Linked DNA regions of Homo sapiens. The protein of the gene in region 3 purifies or fractionates together with the protein of the main gene of each other region. This does not show direct contact. Each region holds a gene or a part of one and is shown on either strand. Other genes may lie near its edges.

What was found. Proteins that work in one complex are often made in the same cells at the same time.
Region 1: the proteins of CORO1A (region 3) and POC1A purify together in Homo sapiens (affinity purification with mass spectrometry; 5 studies listed by BioGRID and IntAct, with this or other methods). This does not show direct contact.
Region 2: the proteins of CORO1A (region 3) and IFT57 purify together in Homo sapiens (affinity purification with mass spectrometry; 5 studies listed by BioGRID and IntAct, with this or other methods). This does not show direct contact.

Annotation. Positions count from the first base shown.
Region 1 is NC_000003.12:52,143,278-52,151,423, forward strand, and holds part of POC1A (POC1 centriolar protein homolog A), read right to left. Parts: intron 7,895-8,146; exon of another isoform or gene 7,824-7,894; coding exon 7,739-7,823; intron 6,711-7,738; coding exon 6,539-6,710; intron 6,113-6,538; coding exon 5,933-6,112; intron 3,819-5,932; coding exon 3,711-3,818; intron 2,685-3,710; coding exon 2,569-2,684; intron 1-2,568.
Region 2 is NC_000003.12:108,211,279-108,219,424, forward strand, and holds part of IFT57 (intraflagellar transport protein 57 homolog), read right to left. Parts: coding exon 8,132-8,146; intron 7,376-8,131; coding exon 7,257-7,375; intron 2,744-7,256; coding exon 2,653-2,743; intron 1-2,652. UniProt on the Homo sapiens protein: Required for the formation of cilia. Plays an indirect role in sonic hedgehog signaling, cilia being required for all activity of the hedgehog pathway.
Region 3 is NC_000016.10:30,185,600-30,190,866, reverse strand, and holds the end of CORO1A (coronin-1A), read right to left. Parts: intron 4,270-5,267; coding exon 4,147-4,269; intron 4,052-4,146; coding exon 3,922-4,051; intron 3,829-3,921; coding exon 3,644-3,828; intron 3,486-3,643; coding exon 3,366-3,485; intron 3,143-3,365; coding exon 3,038-3,142; intron 2,926-3,037; coding exon 2,780-2,925; intron 2,676-2,779; coding exon 2,618-2,675; intron 2,507-2,617; coding exon 2,291-2,506; intron 2,008-2,290; coding exon 1,903-2,007; 3' UTR 1,791-1,902; downstream 1-1,790. UniProt on the Homo sapiens protein: May be a crucial component of the cytoskeleton of highly motile cells, functioning both in the invagination of large pieces of plasma membrane, as well as in forming protrusions of the plasma membrane involved in cell locomotion.

The DNA.
Region 1 (8,146 bases), on a different chromosome or scaffold from region 3:
GAGTCCATCCACACCTCCCCAACCCTGCCATCATGGAGATCCGCCCCTGCCCTCTGCCAAGCCTGCTCCCTCCAGGTCCCCAGCTCCCTCTCCCCAGTACCCACCGCTCTCCTCGGCTGCTCTGCATTGCTCCACCTCCTGACAACCCTCTTCACAAGACCCCACTCTCCTTCACTCCCCAGCCTCTGCCCTCCTCAGCTCTCCCATGCTTGGAGACGGGGTTCATACCTCTCACTCTGGCTGCTTTGTGGACCTTTATCTTCTGTGGCCCCTCAATTATAGGGGCTCAGAATGTGACCTCAGCCATTCTCACATCCCAGATCCCTGGGTCCAGCTGGCCCCTCCACCCCAACAGGGTCAGCTTCTCTGCTTCTACTCAACCTCTGCAACCCATCCCCCACTCTGATGCCAGCCCCTACTTTGATACCAGGCACAGCTGGACACCTACCCATCACTGGGACACATGGGGCACACCAGCCCCCAACCCCAGCAGGCTCTGGACACCGCTATCCTCTCAGATGTCCTTCTTCCCTTCATACCTTAAATGACGAGGCTAGTCCTAGCACTGCCAATCAGGCCACATCTTTGGGACCCCGAGCCAGAGATGGCATCCAAGGCCCTTCCCAAGGGGTACCTGCTGTTATACCCATGAACACCAGGCCCAGGCTCCTGATCCATCAGAGATGGGTCTGGACCCTCCCAGGGTCACCTAGACATCCTCTCTGCCCAGTGTCAGGACTTATGTAGCACAAACCACATACCTAGCCCTGTGTTATAACCCTTTTGTGGCTTTTCCCATCAGAGCCTCACAAAGCCATGAGGAAGGCCTATTGCCACCCCCTTTACAGAAAGGAACCACAGCATGTGCTCCTGACCACTGTCCTGCCTCGTCGCCTTCCACTCCCATCTCTCCCTGTCCAAGTCCTCCCTCCTCTGCACCTGCCCACGTTCCCCAGGCAGCTGGGCAGATGTGCCCCATCCCCAAGCCCCAGCCCTTCACTCAGGCCTGGCCCAGAGCAGAAGGCTGAAGGAAGGATAGGAAAGATATGGGCTCCAAGTGGAGGCAAGCCCCACTGCTCTTCTGTTCCAGAAGCCTCTGTCTGAAAGAGCATTGGTAACAAACCTCAGGGCTTCCTATGGAGGGGGGTGGGGTGGGGGAACAGGTTCTTGTGGCTGGCCCCTGCCACCTGGTGGTGCTGTAGGGTACTACAGGCCTTAACCAACCAGGTTGGCCTCACCAGCCCAGACAGGACCAAGACAGTGTCATTGTCATCATCACTAACATTGTACCTCCTTCCCCCCATTTTGTGCCAGCCACCCTCTCAATTCTTGATATGAAACAACTCATTAAACCTCCCAACACCTCCTGTGAGACAGGCCCCATCATTGTCCCAGAGGCCCCACAGAGTCAAATGACCTGCCCAATATCACACAGCCAGGAATGCTTTAAAAGCCAGCTGCAGAGCCCACTCTCCACCATGTGCTGTTCAAGATTAGGATCTTCTCCCCATTCTGGGAAGGTGTGCTCACCTCTGTTACCCCAAAGAAAGTGCTGTACTTGAACACCAGGAGTCAGCTAGGAAGGGTGTGTGTGTGTCAGGGGTGGGTGGGGTCGGAACCCCACACCTGTGTCCAGCCATGTCCTTCCCATTTCAGGTGTGGCTTAAGGAAGCGAGCCCAAGAACTTTAAGCTTAGTCCCAGGTTAACAACCACGGTTCTTCAAACAACTCCAGCTCTGCCTCCTTCCTGGTCTCGGCCCTGGTCCAGTCTTGCTCATCTCTGTTTTGCCAGCTACACAATTCCCAGTTTCTCCAATGACCCCTCACCAGCTCCCTTCCCTGAGCCCATCCCTGGAACTGGGGCGCCTCATGGCCCTGCCCACTCATACTTGCTCTCAGGCCAGTTCCCTACCCAGTACTCTCAGCGAACTCATCCTGGGCATGTCTAAGTCTGCCCTCGCCCTCCAACTCCCACCTGGAGCCTGACATGAGCCCATGCCCACTGCCCGCCACCCTGCCTTCCAAGGGCTACCATCCTGGGCCTGGCCCCTAGCTAAGTCAACCCTCCCTATGACTCTACATCTGCGGAGGACACTGTAAGACCAGAGGTGGCCACGGTCCCACCAATGCTGGCCTCTACTGACAGCCCTGTTCCCTTTACCACAGGTCAAGGGCTGTCACCTTGGCCCTGGAGGGCAGAGCCTCCATCACCAGGAAAGGCAAGTGGCATGCCCCTGAGAAGTGGTCCTCAAGGGAAGCCCTGACCAGAGCCCCAGTGAGGACTCCCCATCTGGCCCTGCAGTATGTGTGAGATTCTGCCACTTCGGAGGTGAGCATTGACTGGCTCAGTGGAAGCCAGGTAGCACCAGGCTCCATCTCCTGGCCAAGGTTCCAAGCCAGGCCAGCCATGCCACAGACTCCCACCCCTGGAATCCCAACAAACCCAGGACACCTTCCTGCCCAAGGCCATCTCAGACCCATTTAAGCACTACAGCACAGGACAACATCCAACACCATCACAGTCCCACCAGGGCTGCCCTTGGGCCCAGGAGGCTGTTCACCACTCACACTGATAATGCTGCAGCAGCCGGTGAGTCCGCACGTCCCACACCTTCACTGTGTTGTCCATGCCGGCAGCGGCAATGCACGTCCCACTGGGGTGGAAGTCCACATAGGTGACAAAGCTGGAAAGACAGGGGCCACTATGCACTATAGGAGGTCTGCCCTGGTTCAGGACGGACCCAGAAACATTTGGTGCTTTCCCCATCCCTGTGTCCTGCCCACGCTGTTCCCTTGACCCAGACACCTCCTTTCTGTCACACTTGTTTACCAGGTGGCCAAGGGAGAGCAAGAAGAAGTAAAAGGTGAGAACAGTGGCCAGCAACAAACTAAGGTGGACTGACCAGGGAGCACATCCCACCGCCAATTTTCAATACAAGTTGAGAGAGCTATCTTCAAACCCAAAAGTTAGCCAGGCTCCCCTGGGATTTTCAAAGTTGGAGCTGGTACCCTTCCCAGGGGTGGCTGCAGGGCAGATCCTGCCAGCTGAGGCACAGGTGGGAAGGTCCAGCAGGACTACAGGGCCATTGGCCCACCCCTTTCTAGGAGACAGGCCAAGGACCCTCACCACACCCATATGTGATACCCAGGCTGGTACCATGTCCACCTCTCAAGGAGAAGCCCTTGTGGCTCCCAGCCCAACAAAGAAGGGCAGAAGCTGGGGTCTCTACTCAAATGTAGGCACCTCTCTCTCCTGATGATGTGGCACAATATGAACAGCCACCATCTGCTACAAGAACCCAACAAGAATTTTGTAAAGCCATCATCATGGATAACATACCAAGAGGCTTTAAAATGTAGTTTGGGCGACTGAGTGTCAACTGCTGCCAGACAGACATGTTGTAATCCTGACAACCAGAAAGTGAAGGAGAAAAAGAGGAGCACAAATAATTACACAGCTCCAAAGAATTGCATGGCTTGAGGTTAAGCACTCCTGCTATTTGTGGGATGGGGCCAAAGCTTCCATCCACACAGCAAAAGATACAATGCTAGGTTGCCAGACCTCGCAAAAAGCACCAGACAAGGGGCAGCAGTGATAAGGCTGCTGGTCCCACGGCTCCAGCCACTGAAGGCCACTGGGCCTCCTCATGCCCAGGTCTGTGCTCTGTGCTTGAGCGCCTACAGGTGGAGGACAGCATCTGGGGACTCACCCGCCATGCTCACAATACGAGTGGACACATTCCCGGCTGCTCTTGTCCCACAGCTTAACAGTCTTGTCATCACTGGCAGACACGATGAGCCGCCCGTCGGGGGAGAACCTGAACCGGGTGGGGCACAAGTCACATCACAGACTAACAGACGACATGGGCACCACACACCTTCTTCCACAGCCACTCTTCCCCGAGTGCCTACTATCTGCCTGCAGGAACCACCCGGGGTCACATGCCCTGCTGTGATTTTTTTTTTTTTAATTTGAATACCCTAATTTGTCTTTTCAGGAACAAATGCATTGCATCCTAGGAGGCAATGTTACTTCTGTTTATTTGGTCATATCTTAAATTATACTTTGTTTCTGAAAATAGTTAACTTTTAGCACATCATTTTTCTTTTTTCCTTCTGAAGAGTTTTTCAGGAAACTGTGACTAAATTTTGTTTTTGTTTTTGTTTTGTTTTTTAGACAGGGTATTGCTCTGTCACCCAGGCTGGAGTGCAGTGGTGTGATCTCAGCTCACTGCAGCCTCTACCTCCTGGGCTCAAGAGATCCTCCCACCTAAGCCTCCTGAGCAGCTGGGACTACAGGCGTGCACCACCACACCCAGCTAATTTTATTTTATTTTATTTTATTGTAGAGATGGGAGTCTCACTATGTTGCCCAGGCTGGTCCTCTAACTCCTGGAGTCAAAGGATCCTCCCACCTCATCCACCCAAAGTGCTAGGATTACAGACATGCACCTTCAAGCTCGGCCTATGACTTAATTTTAAATGTTATAAAAATGTTTCCTTTATTTTTTTCTTCCTGAATCTGTGAAACTTATTGATCTTTCCTGTTGCTCTTGTTTTCGTTTTCTTACGTAGCTTCATGAGCAAATAGCCCCTCTCCCATCCCAACAGCAAACTCTGACCAAAAGGGAAAAAGAGAAATTCTTCCTGACTTAGAGGAAAACCAAACATAAATAAACAAAAAGAAAAGAAAAAAAAAAAGGTGCCTGCCTCACGAGTGAGCACAGAGCAGCCTCATGCACATAAAGCCCCAGCACTGCCCCTGACGCACAGCACATGGCAACATGCAGCCGACTGCCTGCCGGCAACATTTGCATAAAGGTGGCCAAAAGCTCACCATCAGTGTCATTACTCTGGGACCAGGTCCTCCGAGTCTACATTTGACTCAAGTGCGGGTCAGCAAGACACAATCTGCCAACAAAAGGCATGAGGTCCTGGGGACTGCCACCAAAGGCCCAGTATGGACTTGACACCCCAGTTTGCTGGCCTGGCCCCTCCTGATCTCAGGACCCTAGTCATAAAGCCTCTAAGAGCCATCAGGGGTCTCCCAGGACAAAGGAATGGGGGTGCCCTGGAGAACAGTAACTTGTATGGGGTCCCCAGAAGAACACAGCTCAATAGTCCCCAACTTCTGACTCATGTGGTTTCCTAATGTCACCTGGCACCCCAACCCCTTCCTCTGAAGCAAAGATATTTGACCCATGGGGAAGCTCTGTTGAAAGGAATGAAATAAGCTAGAAGTAGGACTATCTGTCTGCAATTCTTGGACCTTGAAAGGTCCTTTGGGTTACCTGGCCCGCTGTCTGCACAGCACTGGCTCCCTGGCCAGCAGGAAGGCTAGCCTCCAGGCTAAGCCCCCCATCTCCGAAGCCTGCGCCCCCATCTGGGAGCTCTGGAGCAAAATCATCCCCTGAGAACATCCCAGAGGAAAGTAGGCAAGCCTTACTGTCAGAGAGAGTTGGGTTCAAACTCCAGCTCTGCCACAGACCCACCGTGTGCTCTGGGACAAGATACTACTGTTCTGAGCCCCCATTTCCTCATCTGCAAAATGGAAATGCACCTAGCTTGCAGAACTGTCTTAAGGAACAAAAAGAAAATGTGTAATGGTAGTACTGAAAGTACCTAATTGTTTTTGATAATAAATGGCCCCTGTTGACCCAGTTTGTGCTTTGCCAACACAGATGTCAGAGGGTCATCATGGCTGACTATGGACTAACTTACATGTCATGCATCAGCTCCATGAAGCTTCTCGACAACTTACAATGCAGGAGCTATTATTGTTCCATTTTACAGATAAGGAAACCGAGGCTGAGGAAGCTTAAACAATGCCTAAGTAACTTGCCCGAGGTCATAAGTTGGTACCTAGCAGCCCCTGGGCCAGCCCCCAACCCCCAGGGTTCCTCCAAGGGTCTCCAGACAGAACAATGCTCACTTGGCACAGCGGACCCAGTTGATATGCTGGCTCAGGGAGAACAGGAATTTCTGGCGATGAGTTGCCCACACTTTGACTGTCTTGTCGTCAGAGGCTGTCACGAAGGACTGGCCATCACTGCAGAAGTGGACACTCCTCACTGTGGCTGTGTGTGCACGAAACACAGTGGACTCACCTTTGCTACAAGGACAGGCATCCAAGAGTAAGGAAACCCATAACAGTGACATGAGAGCCCACAAGCACATCAAAGCTCTCCTACTCCTCAAGCACCCCTCCCAAAGTCAGTCAAGCCCGAGTACCCCAGTCTCCACAAGGGAAAGCCAGAGCCTCTCCTATATGAACAGAGCACCATCTCTAGGCCCCACCCACATGAACACAGCATCAGGTGGCATTTCTTTAGGGATAGATTGGGTAAGCCCAGAACTCCTCTTCCAACCCTGAGGGGAGGGCTCCAACTGCAGCCCCAGCCTCTGATGGCACCTCTTCCAAAGCAGAGTAGAAGTCCCACTGTGACCAGTCCAGAGCCAAGCTAGGGGACCTGGGTGGGGATGGCTCTGGCACCAGGGCCCCAGACTCCAACAAGCCTCCTCAAAGTGTACGACTCACACATTGGGTACCCAGATGCGGACAGTCTTGTCTCGGGAGCCGGAAGCAAGCAGGTGTCCCGAAGGAGAGAAGTTCACACAGGTGACGGCATCCTTGTGGCCAGTGAAGCGGTAGGCGCGTGACTGCGGCTTCATGTGCCAGACCATGAGGCATGAGTCCATGGAGCCACTGGCTGAGGACAGTGGGTGATGCTATGACCTACAGCTCTAACAGGCTTCAAGCCTCCACCAAGACATTGGAGAGGCAGGGGGAGCAACTGGCCCAGCTCCATCTTCCCTGGCATCCACAAACAGACCGTGAGAAGTCTCCCATGGAGCAGAGCACATCTCGAGGTATGGTCTGGAGGTGGAGAGCCTGTGGCCCAGAGTTCTCCAAGGAGCACACCCACATGGGAATAAGACCGAGGCCCTTCCCATGCTAGCCTTGGACTGCAATCCAGAGCTCTGGGAAAACTCATTCCCATGGGGCCCAGGGTCTCCCCCCAGACACATCCTGAGGGCACCAGAGAGCAAGTCCTCCCCAGCTGGGAAGCCAGCCCCTCCCATTGAGAGGGCCCAACTCAGTATGAAGCCTAAAGGAGGTCCCCAAAACTGATCAAAAATCACTTCAGTTCCCTCTTAACCTTTACACATCAGAGGGTCTTGATGACAGGATGAAGGGGCAAGCCTCCTCTGCAGGAACCAGAAAGCGCAGTCATAAAAGCTGTGTACGAAACCTCATGCAACCAAGGAAGGGGGACAGTCAGCTGCAGCATAAGAGCAGTGGGGTCGAGGGGGGTGCCCATCTCTGCTCAACAGCCTTCTCACTGACAAGGCTCTTCAACAAGGTGTGCCTTATTACTGTGGGCAACAGAATCAGTAAAGCTTCAAGGAAAAGGAGTCACTGTTTAGGGCCCACACCAAAAGACAGACCCAAAAGGTGGCTAGGGTGTGCAGAAAAGACCCAGATCCCAGTCCCACCCTCAAAAGCTCTGTGGCCTTAGCAAGGCCCCTAACCTCTCTGACCCTCAGGCTCTGCATGTAAAATGAAGCTCATGAAGCCCAGTGCCCAAAGAGCTGGCAAGCAGAAGCAAGACTAGAAGCAGGTCTAGACAAAGCTGTGCAGTCCTTGTGCTCTGCTTCCCACCCACCACCCCTCCGAGGTAAAAACTTGGCCTGTTCAGCTCATAACCTAGCACCTAGACAGGGTGCCTCTTCTTACCCAGCTGCTTTGTGTTGATACTGAAGTCCACACAGGTAACTGCATCTCGGTGGCCCTTAAAATGCCTTTCCAGCGAGGGGTCCTCCTGAGAGAGAGCCAGGGTCAAATGTGTGAAGCCTGGGTGAGGAAGGGGCTTCCCCAGGGCCAGCACTCTTCCTACAACAGCCGGGGGAGTAGGGTTAAAAATGCTCAAGGCATGATCTTATATAAAGAAAATCCTAAGGAATCCACTTAGGATTAGTTTTTACTAGGAATAGTTTTTACTATTTGAATTAATACATCAACTGTGGAAATGCTTCAACAAAAACAAAAAACAAATGAGTTCAGCAAAGTTGCAAGATACAAAATCAAGACACAAAAATCAATTGTCTTTCTGTACACTAGCAATGAATAATCCAAAAAATAAAA
Region 2 (8,146 bases), on a different chromosome or scaffold from region 3:
AAATAGTTATTAAGACGACAAGATGAGGGAATAAATAAGGTGAACAACTAGGAATATATGAGTACTTAATTTCTGAGCTTGAACGGAAAGATCTGTTACACAAAGAATAAAGCCTAAACTACTTTTCATGCCCAAAACAATCTGAACTTGGTCTATCTTCCCAGTTAATCTTATGCCACCCTCCCCCTCACTTAGGAGCTCTGGCCCCAGTAGTTTTCTCTAAGTTCCTTGATCATGCTAAGTTTCTTTCTGCCTTCAAAGCTTTGGCACATGCTACACAGTCAGGGCCTTGGCCACTGCCTGCTACATAACAAGTGCTCAATAAGTATATGCAGAATGAATGAATATATCTTTGTCTTGACCTTTAAAATCCATCACATTAAAAAACATCTTTTAAACTGATAAGTTTTACAATGGTCTTTTTCCTTCTGTAAATGACAGTCATCTTTTTTTACATATATTAAATAATGTTTATTTACATTGCTGTTAAAAATACATGTTGAAAACCTTAAAAATACAAAGCATAGAAAACAATCATCCATAATTCTCCTACCCATAATTAATGCTAATATATTTATTTTTAACGTATTTTACATAGTTAATGTTATATCAACATAAAATTTGGAATCATCTCAGTTAATTTTATAGCATATAGTATAAGTTACATTCCCATGTCAGTAACTTTGTATTTTTCTTTGTAAACTTTGTAAACATTTTTTGTAGAGACAGGGTCTTGCTCTGTCACCCAGGCTGTAGTGGAGTGGCATGATCACAGCTTACTGCACTTTCAAACTCTTGGGCTCAAGCGATCTTCCCACCTCAGCCTCCTGAGTAGTTAGGACTACAGGCATGCACCACCATGCCTGGCATTTTTTTCTTTTTTGGTAGAGATGAGGACTCACTATAATGCCCAGGTTGGTCTCAAATTCCTGGCCTGAAGCAATCACCATGCCTGGCATTTTTTTCTTTTTTCCTTTTGGTAGAGATGAGGACTCACTCTATTGCCCAGGTTAGTCTCAAACTCCTGGCCTGAAGCAATCCTCCCACCGCCTCCCGAAGAGCTGGGATTACAGGTATAAGCCAGCATGCCCACCCAACAATTTTCAATGGTGATATAGTTTGGATATATGTCCCCTCCTCTGTCTCTGGTCCTTCTCCCCTCCTCTGCTTCTTCTCTGGCCATGTGAGGTGCCTGCTCCCACTTTGTCTTACCATGATTGTAAGCTTCCTGAGGCCCTCACCAGAAGCAGATGCTGGTGCTACACTTCTTGTATGGTCTGCAAAACTGTGAGCCAAAATAAACTTCTTTTCTTTATAACTTACCCAGCGCCTCAAGTATTCCTTTACAGCAACACAAAATGGACTAATACAAATGGCTATATAATACTCTATTCAGATAGCATCTAATCTATTTAATAGTTATTTTTCAGCATTTGCTATTAAAATTATGCATATACTAACTTAAATACTATACTATACTAACCTCAATGCCAAACTTCAATTACTTACTTATTTTAAACTAATTATCTATTGATTTTAAAAATCACCTAAAAATTTTAATTGGTTTATGACAGCAAAATATAGTTGACCCTTGAACAACACGGGTTTGAACTGCATGGGTCCACTTAAATACAAATTTTCTTTCATTTCTGCCACCCCTGAGACAACAAGACCAACCCTTCCTCTTGCTCTTCTTCCTTAGGCTACTCAATATGAAGACAGGGAAGATACTTTTATGATTATCTACTTCCACTTAATAGTATGTATGTTTTCTCTCCCTTATGGCTTGCTTAGTAACATTTTCTTTTCTCTAGCTTACTTTTAGTGTAAGAATACAGTATATAATACATAGACAAAATATGTGTTAACTCTTTATGTTATTGGTAAGGCTTCAAGTCAACAGTAGGCTATTAGTAAAGTTTTTGGGAGTCCAGAGTTATATGTGGATATTCAACTGTGTGGGGGCCGATGCCCATAACCCCCACATTGCTCAAGGGTCAGCTGTATACTATAAAGTTTGTTTTTTCCCCCAACCATTTCTGCTTCAAATCACAAGCACACTTCCTAAAATACCAGGGTCAATCTAATTCTAGTTCTGAGAATTATCTTGAGAAAAAGTTATTTTGTCTCTGTCATCTTTAGCTGCACACTATGGATGGCATGTAAAACATGTAAAAAGTTGTAGATTCTGCCAAACAACTTAAATAATGTTGATCATTTAAAAGCATTAAAAAATTCCTACTCATCCTAATTGTAGATGAATAAAGGAATTCCTTAGAAATGAATGGTATGCGTATAAAGCAGAATTTATTAATCCTAAATTCTTTTGTTCTGTTTTAAATTCTTTATTAGTCACAGTCTATTTAACATCATGAATGGTTAATAAAGTATTTACTCATATAACTAGTGGTATATATTTCCCTGAACAGTTCAAGAACCTCTGCTAAAATTCAGACCTCAATCATTAGAGAATACAAACATTAACTTAACCAAAGGTCTAAATGATGATACTCAGCACTGTATTTAAAAGCTTTTCTTCTTTAGAAACAATGAAATAAAATATATTCCAGATAATGGAAGTCTGGGGGAAATTAAGAGAATGGGAAGTGGCCGAAAGGTGAAAATGAACAGAAAGTTCAGCTACACACATACCACAAATTCTTCATCCACTTTATTTAATGTTAATTCTGCATCATCTTCTGCAACGCTTTCTTCTTCTAATTCTTCTACTGGGTATATTGGCCTAAAATAATAAGATTAAACATGAGGTGATAATTTTAATATTTAGTAAGACAAAAAAATCATAATGCAAATATCATGTCCTCTATGCCAGGTTTTGTCCTTTTTCATTCCGCTTCCATAATCACTGTTAAATGTTTCATGTATTTTTCCTAAAACTTTCTATGTAAAAAGCAAAAGTGTTTATCTCCAAATTTATAAAAAATGAGATGATACTATGCATGGTGTTATCCAACTTAATGCTTCTCACTAATACACCATATTTAAATACATATGTATTTCTCATTATTTTTTACATACAAGCACTGTATTTCATTGAACAATCAATACCATAATTAATGTAATTGGCAGCCTATGACTGAACATAGAGGTTTCTAATTATTTTGCTGGACAATATTGCAAAGATCATCTTTGTACATTTATCATTACACATACCATTTAGAATAAATTTGTTCAAGTGAAATGGCAGGGTAAACAACTTTGTACAGTATTGTTTTGCTATATACTGCCAAAATTGGCTTCCAAAATGTTACCCTAATTTAGACTCCAAACAATACTGAAGGAGAGTAACTCCATCTCCATATATTCACCAATATGATATATAATACAAACTTTAATTTTAGCCAATCAACCAAGTGAAAAAAAATCTCATTCTTGTTTTAACTGCATTTCTTTAGCATGAAAGTGATTGAATATCTTGTCATATTTTAATTGCTTATTTGCACTTCTTTTTAGGTGAAATGTCTATTTATACCATTTACTTTTTGGCTTTTTGTATATTAAGAAAATTAATGTTTTGCCTAACCTCTCAAAAATTGTTCCCCTAGTGTATTACTTATAATCTTGGCTATTCAAGATTGTTATAGTTCTTCTTAGATAGAGTTGGTAACCTTTTCCTGCACAGACCCTAGCTTTAACATCATATATTAGAGGCTTTCTGTCATACCACAACCTCTATACTCCTCTGGTCTTTTAATACTTCTATAGTTTTACTTTTCATATTTACATCTTTGATCAATCTGAAGTTTATTTTAACATAGGTAATAAGAAGGAGTCCAGCTTTCTTCTTATTTCCAAAATCTAATTAGTGATCCTAACATTAAACTTTGAAAAAAATCATTTATTCATCAAGATTAATGACACATTTCCTATATTAAAAGTACTTAAATGTATTTGGGCTTATTTATGAAAACATATTTTTTTTCCTTTTTTTAATCCAGTAACAAAGCTAGAGAGAAAACTTGTATTAAAAACTTGTACCTGGCTGGGTGTGATGGCTCACATCTATAATCCCAGCACTTTGGGAGGCCAAGGCAGGTGGACTGTCTGAGACCAGGAGTTTGAGACCAGCCTGGGCAACATGGTGAAACCCTGTCTTGACAAAAAAAATAAAAAATTAGCTGGGAGTGGTGGTGTGCACCTGTAGTCCCAGCTATGCGGGAGGCTGAGGTGGGAGGATCGCTTGAGCCCGGCAGGCAGAGGTTCACTCCAGCCTGGGCGACAGAGTGAGACCCTGTCTTAAAAACGAAAACCCATGCCTCAATCATGTTAAAAAAATACAAAAATCAACATTTACTAATATGCAAAATACTATGAACTAAATCAATCATCTTAAATAATAAATTTCCTAATTTTTCATTAATTAGAATTCGAAAATATCTCAAAGGCAATGTTCTTCTAGGATTCATTTTGACATTTAGATATATAAAAAATTCATCTATATGTAACGTCTATCTCATTTACATGTTACAGAGCTGACATATTCTCTAATGTTGACTACTTTTCAGCTCCCTCCTTTTATTCCTCATTTAAACATAGTCCTTATAAGTTATCCAAGTCACAGTCTCTTCAATAAATGGTGCTAAAAAACAAAAAAAGAAAAATAAATAGTACTGGGGAAACTGGATATCCACATGCAAAAGAATGAAACTAGACCCTTACCTCTAACCACTTATAAAAACCAACTCAAAATGGATTAAAGACTTAAATATACAATCTGAAACTGAAACTACTAGAGGAAATGTGGAAGAAAACACTTCATGACATTGGTCTGGGCAAGAATTTTTTGGATAAGACCTCAAAAGCACAGGCAACAAAAGCAAAAATAAACAAATGCGATTACATCAAACTTAAGGAAACAATCAAAAGAGTGAAGAGACAACCCACAGAATGGGAGAAAATATTTGCAAACTACCCATCTGACAAGAACTTAACATCCAGTATGTATAAGAAATTCAAGCAACTCAATAGCAAAACAACAACAAAAAAACTAGTCTAATTTTTAAAATGAGCAAAAGATCTTAATAGACATTTCTCAAAAAATACATAGAAACGGCCAACAGATATATGCAAAAATGCTTGACATCACTAATCATCAGGGAAACGCAAATCAAAACCACGATATCATCTCACCCCAGTTAGAATGGCTATTACCCAACCCCTCGCCCCCCAAAATAACAAAGGCTGCTGAGGATATGGAGAAGGGGTAACCCTTGAACACTATTGGTAGGTATGTAAATTATTAGTACAGACACTATAGCGAACACTATGGAGGTGCCTCAAAAAACTAAAAATAGCACTACTCTATTATCCAACAATCCCACTACTGATGATATATCCAAAAGAAATGTAATCGGTATGTTAGAGATATCTGCACTCCCATGTTTATTGCAGCACTATTCACAATACTCAAGATACGGAATCTGCCTAAGTATCCATCAAAGGTTGAATAGAAAATGTGGTATATTTTCACAGTGGAATACCATTCAACCATAAAAGAGAATGCAATTCTGTCATTTGTAGCAACCTGTATAAGCATGGAGGACACTATGTCAAGTGAAATAAGCCAGGCACAGAAAGACAAATATCATAGAAGTAGAGAGTATAATAGTGGTTACCATAGGATGGGAAGGGTAGGGGGAAGGGAGAATAGGGAGAAGTTGGTCAAAGTGGGTGAGTACAAAGTTACAGTTAGGAGGAATAAGTTCTAGTGTTCAATGCACAGCAGGGTGACTACAGTTCACAATATTATATATTAATTAACAATAATATATATTTGAAAATAGCTCATAGAGATTTGGAATTTTCTTGCCACAATAAAATGATAAACGTTTGAAATGATGAATATGTTAATTTCACTAACTTGATCATTGTATATTGTACACATGTATCGAAACATCACATTGTACTCCAAAATTTGCAGTTATGTGCCAATTAAAACTAAAAAATAAATTATCCAACTTACAATACAGAGGCCAGGAATAAGATGTGTTGAGAAACAAAGGAAGTGCAAAATAGAATAGTGGTTGAGATATTACACCATAGCTTCTGGTGAATTTAGAATATATTAGTCTATTAATTTAGCAGTTTTTTAAAATGCTAAATACAGCAGCACATCTCATAACTTATCTTCTCTTGAAATTTAATAAAGTATTATGGACCATGTAGCCATTCTTTATATTGTACTAAATAATAATGTTTGGATTGAAGCATATGAAATTGCCATTTTTTAGTTTAAAAATAGATGAATATGAGTAATTTCATATGGCTCATCCCAATGATAACCTAATTCAAGGAAGTTATTAAACTTAATAGGGAGATTATATCTAAAAGAATATAATTGAATATACATTAAAATGTTATTAACAGGGAATAATATATATATATGTGTGTGTGTGTATATAATCTTTCTACCGAAGTTAGTTCTAATTAAAAAAAAAAAAACACTGCTTACTCGCATTTTACCTGAATAGTGCCTTCTACATTCTAACCTATTAGTAATCCCAAACTGCAAAGCATAAAATTTATGTTTTCTAATTATAATCTCTATAAATTGAGTTTCCAAATGTTCTATTTCATCTATATGCTCAATATCTATTAAACATCTAAGATACACCAAGCATTATGCTAACAGAGTACTTGTGAAGATTTCATGATTTCTAGCAAGAATGTCAGAATAGTAAAGAACAATTTTATACCATAGGATAAATATAATATAATAATAGAAATAAAGCACTGTCAGGTTGGACACAAAAGCAATGAACAATGTCTAGGAGAGTGTCAGGTAGTTTCTTCAGTATTATTCTTGCCCAGTAACTACTAGCAAAGGAGAAAATCCCACTTAAAGTACTGTATTAATTTCCATTTTTCCTTAAATCTGTAGCTATCAGTTCCCTCTGTGTATATACTATGTTTGTGTGTGTGAACATATGTACAAGAGACTTTAAAAAAAAAGTCCAGTATTTACAAAGATATGTAGTCACAGTTAAACCTTTAATAATTACATATTTGAACAGGAAAACGGCATAATAATATGTAACACATTACTTCAGAATTAGTTTTGAAGACGTGAGACATTCTAATTTTGTCTATACTGGCTTTTCTTAATTATCTGTGGCATTTTCAATTTAGAATAGTCAAAAAGAATAATTCTTTTATGTTCAATTGAACAGCTCTGTACCCTCAGAGGCAAATGCTATGCCCATAAAATTACTATCATCAGGGTGGGTAATTTTTACCTTTTCCAGGTGAAACCAATATATTTCAATGCTTCTTCAGCGAAGCAATCAAGAACATAGCATACATGTTCTCCATAACCTGACTTTAATTTTGAAGGAGGAAAATCTGCAGTTCTTCCCTGAAAAACAAAAGAAAAAACAGGGTATTATTTGTTAGTTATACTCCAAATGTCAAATATTTTAAGCAAAGAACTGCTGAATGGATGTATCACTTTTCTTTCAAATGATTTACAATAACTGTAATTACACTGCTTCATACAAATCCATTTCAAGTCTTTGTAACCCATTGATACATAAAAATACTCAAAGACTTTTATTGTTAAAAGTATCAAATTAAAAAGCAATAACATCATAGCAGCAGAACAAATTATTGATCTTATTAGAGTGAAAAGAAACCAGTAAAACTATTTAAACAACTATGTTTAAGGACAGAGTGATTCACTTGTCAAAAATTAATAACATTTGTGCCAAAAATATCTTACTGCCTGCCCAGGAAAAGTCAGAAATGAAAAAGTACAACTGCTGTCATGGTCTTAAGTACAAGTTCCCTTTCAGAATATGAAGTGTTTTGGCTTTGTAGGATTTTTTTTTAATTATCATTTTTTAGATCAAGAATTAACCACCCCAAAATTTACCTCTCAGATATATCAAGATTTTTTTAAAAAAATATTACTTTGGACTAATAAAGAGTATATACTGAACATTTTCAGAAGTGACATTAACATTATAATGTAAACTATTTTAAGGAGGTTTTACCTAAAAATAAATTCATATTTACAGAGGAGTCATCTAAATGGCTAGCATTTGTTATTAAATTACCAGTATTAAAATTCATAACTTGAGAACAAGGAAAAAGAAGGGTCGTTTACACTTACAAATGACCGAAGCTC
Region 3 (5,267 bases):
GTTTGAGACCAGTCTGGCCAACATGGTGAGACCCCACCTCTACTGAAAACACAAAAGTTAGCCGGACGTGGTGGCACATGCCTGTAATCCCAGCTACTTGGGAGTCTGAGGCACGAGAATGGCTTGAACCCAGAAGGCAGAGGTTGCGGTGAGCCGAGATTGTGCCATTGTACTCAATTTGGGCAACAAGAATGAAACTCCATCTCAGAAAAAATTAAATAAATAAAAAAGTGGGGAGACTTGGACTCTGACTTGGGATCTGCCCTTCAGTGAGCTGGGCTCCTGCTCCCGGCCTCAGTTTCTTCTCTGGTAAACTAGGATCAGCCTGTTGCCTTAATTCTGTCTTTTCCTTAGAAGAAGTTCCCCTGTTTCATATATTAAAATATATAATATATAAAACATATATATAAAATATATATAATTTATATTATAATATATAATATAATATAATATAATATAATATATATTATAATATATATTATATATTATACTATATTATTATATAGTATAATATATAACTTATTACTATATAATATAATATATAATTTATTATTATATAATATAATATATATTATATATTAAAATATATAATTAATATATATAATATTTATATATTAAAATATAATATATATAATATTTATATATTAAAATATATTATATATAATATATTTATATATTAAAATATATAATATATATAATATATTTATATATTAAAATATATATGATGTATTTATACATTTAAAAAATATATATATATATATATATATATATTTTTTTTTTTTTTTGAGACGAAGTCTCACTCCTGTCCCCCAGGCTGGAGTACAATGGCATGATCTCGGCTCACTGCAACCTTTGCCTCCCGGATTCAAGCAATTCTCTTGCCTCAGCCTCCTGAGTAGCTGAGATTACAGGCGCCTGCCACCATGCCCAGCTAATTTTTGTATTTTTAGTAGAGATGGGGTTTCACCATGTTGGCCAGGCTGGTCTCGAACTTCTGACCTCAGGTGATTCACCCACCTCGGCCTCCTAAAGTGCTGGGATTACAGGCGTGAGCTGCCACACCCGGCCTATTTATATTTTTTAGAGACAGTGTCTTGCTCTGTCACCCAGGCTGCAGTGCAGTGGTGCAATGGCTCATTGCAGCCTCGACCTCCTGGGCTCAAGGGATCCTCCTGCCTCAGCCTCCTGAGTAGCTGGAACTATAGGTGCCCACCACCATGCCTGGCTAATTTTTTATTTTATTTTTCGTAGAGACGGTATCTCGCCGTGTTGCTCAGGCAGGTCTCAAACTCCTGGGCTCAAATGATCCTGCCGCCTCAGCCTCCCACAGTGCTGGGATTATAGACGTGAGTCCCCATGCCCAGCCTCCCTCGTTATTTTTATCTTTGGACCTGCAGTTTAAAAGATGCCTACCCTGTAAGTGATGGTTGGTTCATTTCCTCACAAGCAACAGTGCCAGCAGAGTCACGTGCAACGTGATGTTTTGGTTGACTAGGAAAGGCAGATTTTTGGTAAATTTGGGAATTATTGAGGTTCTAAGCTAGGGCCTTAAATAGTTCAGCTGTGTCAGCTCTGAGAAGGAGCTCGGAAACGGAGAGCAGCCTCCTGGCCCACATCAGCATGGCTGGTTTCTACCCACGAAGGCCCTGTTCCTGTGATGTAGTAAGTCAGGGGGCATCCCACATCCCCTGCCATGGGTCAGTCCCCTCAGCGCGGTGGAGGGGAAGCTCTAGGGCTGGTTGGTTCAGCAAACTGCGTGTCTAGGGGACCAGTCATCAGAGTCTGGGAGGTACCAGAAAATAAAGCCATTTTATTATGATTTTTTTCTCTGCCATGTGGCTGGGAATGGGAGGTGAGTGGATGGGTGTGAATGGCTGACCCTGCTGGAGGCCCTGCGGGGCTCTACTTGGCCTGGACTGTCTCCTCCAGCCTGTCCAAGCGCTTCTGGAGCTCCTGCACCGTGGCCTGGAGCTTCCGCATCTCCTCCTCCAGCCGAGACACGGCATCCTGGGGACCCGGTGCTGCATTAGGCCCAGCTCCTCCCTGGCTCCCCTTACCCCAGCCTCTGCTGAGCCCCATCCCTAGAGCCCTGGCCTTGGGCCCTTTAGTCGCTCAGCTGGTTGCTGCCTGGAGACCTGCAGGCCTATCAATCTGAAACCTGTGTTCTGAGGCCTCAGGATTACCATTCCCGGACCCACAAAGATTCCCAATGTTGTGAGTTTGAGGTGCCCCAAACACCAGCCCCACCCCACCCTCCCAGTTTTATTCCCTGGCTTCCCAGCCCTCTCACCGAGCTGGGAGTGCCACTGGCCTCTGGTGCTGCCCTCCTGCGCCCGGTGTCCAGGCCCCGGTTGACCCTCAGCTCCCGGCTCTTTGGGGGTACGTAGCCATCCTTGAGGGAGATGAGGAGGGGCCCAGCATCCCGACCCCCCAGCCACTCCTCAGCCGTGAGGGCAGGGTCGGGCCCTGCGGTGGGTGGGTACAGGTCCTCCTGGAACAGGTCCGACTGTGGGCAAGGCCAGGGATAGTGAGGAAAGCGCTTATGCCAGGACACCCCCCACAAGACCGCAAAGTCAGTGCCCAGCCTGGAGCCCAGGGTGGGGCGGGGGAGCATCACCTTTCGAGGCACTGTCATGGCAATGGGCTCACACCTCCGCTCGTGCAGCTTGTAGAACCTGTGGGAAGGGGAAGGTGAGCGGGGCCCACAGTCTGGTTGGGTGGGCTTGGGACTGCCCACTGCCCAAGGAGCATGCTGCGGTCAGGGCCGGGGGTCAGTCACCTGGCGATCTCACACTTGTTCACCTCCAGGCCACGTTTGGGCATGTAGCCCATGCCCCGCTGGGACTCCTTGGAACTGAACATGGAGAGATAGTGCAGGAAAGGGGCCTCGGAAGTGATCTCAAAGTACCGGATTGAGCTGTCACCCTGTAGGTGGCAGGTGTGGAGGGAGGGTCAATACCAGCGGATGCCCACTGCCCTGGCCCTCTCCAGGCCCATCCTGCCCACCTCCCACCCCCACCCCGCCCGACGAGGCCACCTTGCCACAGAGGTAGACGATGTTGGTGTCAGGGTCAAAGAAGGGCAGCAGGACACCGCTGCTGGTGTCCAGCTCCTGCAGGGACAGCGGCTCCTCCAGGTGCTTCTGTAGACACAGGTGAGAGGTAACATCCCAGGCCCTGGGATGGTGGTCTTCCCTGGGCAGTGACCTGTGAGGGCCCTCCCGACCAACCAGTGGGAACAACCATCTCACGCCTGGGTAAACTGAGGCCCATGGCCATCCTGCCAGGTGAGTGGCAGAGCAGGGACGAAACCTCCAGTCTTGGTTCCCAGCCTGGGGGCCCTCGGCTTCCTGCCCCAGCACTCACTGTGTCCCACAGCGCCACCTGCCGCTCACTCATGCGGCTGAAGCCCGTGGTCAGGATCTTCCCCTCCGACACGAACACTGCACGCACGGGCCGGGTCCCCTCGTGGGGACGGTCCTTCTCCTGCAAGGAAAGGGAGGTGGTAGGTCAGGCACCCGTACATACCCTACGGGGCCAGTCCCAGGTGGAGGCGAGGGAGGGCAGCATCCAAGGGCCTGGCTGATGGTGGATAAGAAGGATAAAGGCTGTAGGGTCAAAGGTCAGGGTAGATGGCGACTCACAGCTACGACAGTGCCTTTGCGGGGCTCGATGATGCGCACGCGCTTGTCACGGCAGGAGGTACAAATGAGGCCTCCATCTCGGCTCCAGTCCACACTGTAGATCGTGTCTGGGTGCACCTCTGGGCCCAGTGTCAGCATGGCCGCCCCAGTGCCCACGTCCCACACCATGATCACGTTGTCACAACCTGCACGTTCCCCACAGTGTCAGAAGCCATGAGCCTCCTGCCCTCATCCACTGCAGGCCACGAGCCACCCCCAAGCCCCTCCTCCCGCAGCACCTGCACTGAGCAGCACGTTCTGGGCTGTGGTGTGCCAGGCCACAATGCCCACACGCTTGGTGTGGCCCTCCAGGGTGACGACGGGCTCCCGCAGGGGCAGCATCAGGCCCCCATCTGGGATCTCCCACACCTGCAGAGGAGGGGCCAGTGAGTCTTCAGGACTCCAAATGTCAGATCCCATCCTAGAGCCCCTCTCCCAGCCCCTGGGTCCCCACCACCACTCACCATGACTGTGCAGTCCTCGGAGCCACTGGCAATGACGTTGTCATTGTGCGGGCACCAGGCGATGTCTAGCACAGGGGCTGTGTGGCCACAGACCGTGGGCGCATTCTTGTCCACACGTCCAGTCTAAAGGCACAGCAGGGCCTTGGAGGTGCTTTTGCCTCCCAAACCCAATCCAACCTCCCCACACCTCCTTCAGAGAGGCCCAGAGAGGAAAGCTGTGGTGTCCCTGGGAGCTGGACCAGGGCCTGGGGTGGGGACGGGGGCGGGTTGTTCTTCTCTTGTTCCAGTCCCAAAATGGCCTGGGCAAACCCCAGGAGGGCTGGCCACGCATGGCAGAGGTTGGGGGCCGTGCAAGACCCTGGCAGAGTTCCCGCCGGTCTCTGTCTCAGTCTGTCTCTGCCCTTAGGGTTGGCACCCCCACCCCAGCTTCCCCGAGTGAGGCTTCCATGGGCACAACTGGCCCTGGAGCCAGGACAGGTGTATGGGGGCTGGGGGGGTGGAGGCAGCTCCCCAGAGAGCGAGTGTGAGTGGTGGGGCTGCAGGGGTGGGTCCTCCCAAAAGGAGAGGGGCCAGGGAGCCTGTCCCAACTGGCCCCAGGCAGGAGCAGAGGTTTGGAAATGGCTTCTTCCGGGGACAGCTGCTTCAGCAGGGCTTCCTGTGTGACAGCCATGTGGGGCGCGGGCCCAGCTCTCACCCCGACAACCACTTCCTCTTCTCTTTGCTTCCATCAGCCCTTTTAAGGTAACAACTTGGGGCCCATCTCCCCTTCCTGTCTTACCCCCCAAAGAGCACAGGAGTGTGCTGGGGGTGCGGGGCAGCAGCCAGCCAGCGGAGGGGGCAGCAGGCTCCAGGGGAGGGCAGGGCTGCGGGTGGGGGAGAGCACCTCTTGCATCATCCCTGCCTGCGAGCTGGGGGACAGAGTTGCTAGGTCCTCAGACAGGCCCAGAGCCAGAGTCCCTCCCAACCCTGAGAACGCTGCCAGGGCCCCCAGACCCCATCCCAACCCCCTCTGTGTTTCCATGGGGAGAAAGCCCCAGGCTGAGGCTCAGGAGGGCTGATCATGGGTCTGCAGGACTGTCTGTAGTCCTGGTCACTGGTGTGACCCATCTTGTGTTGGCTCC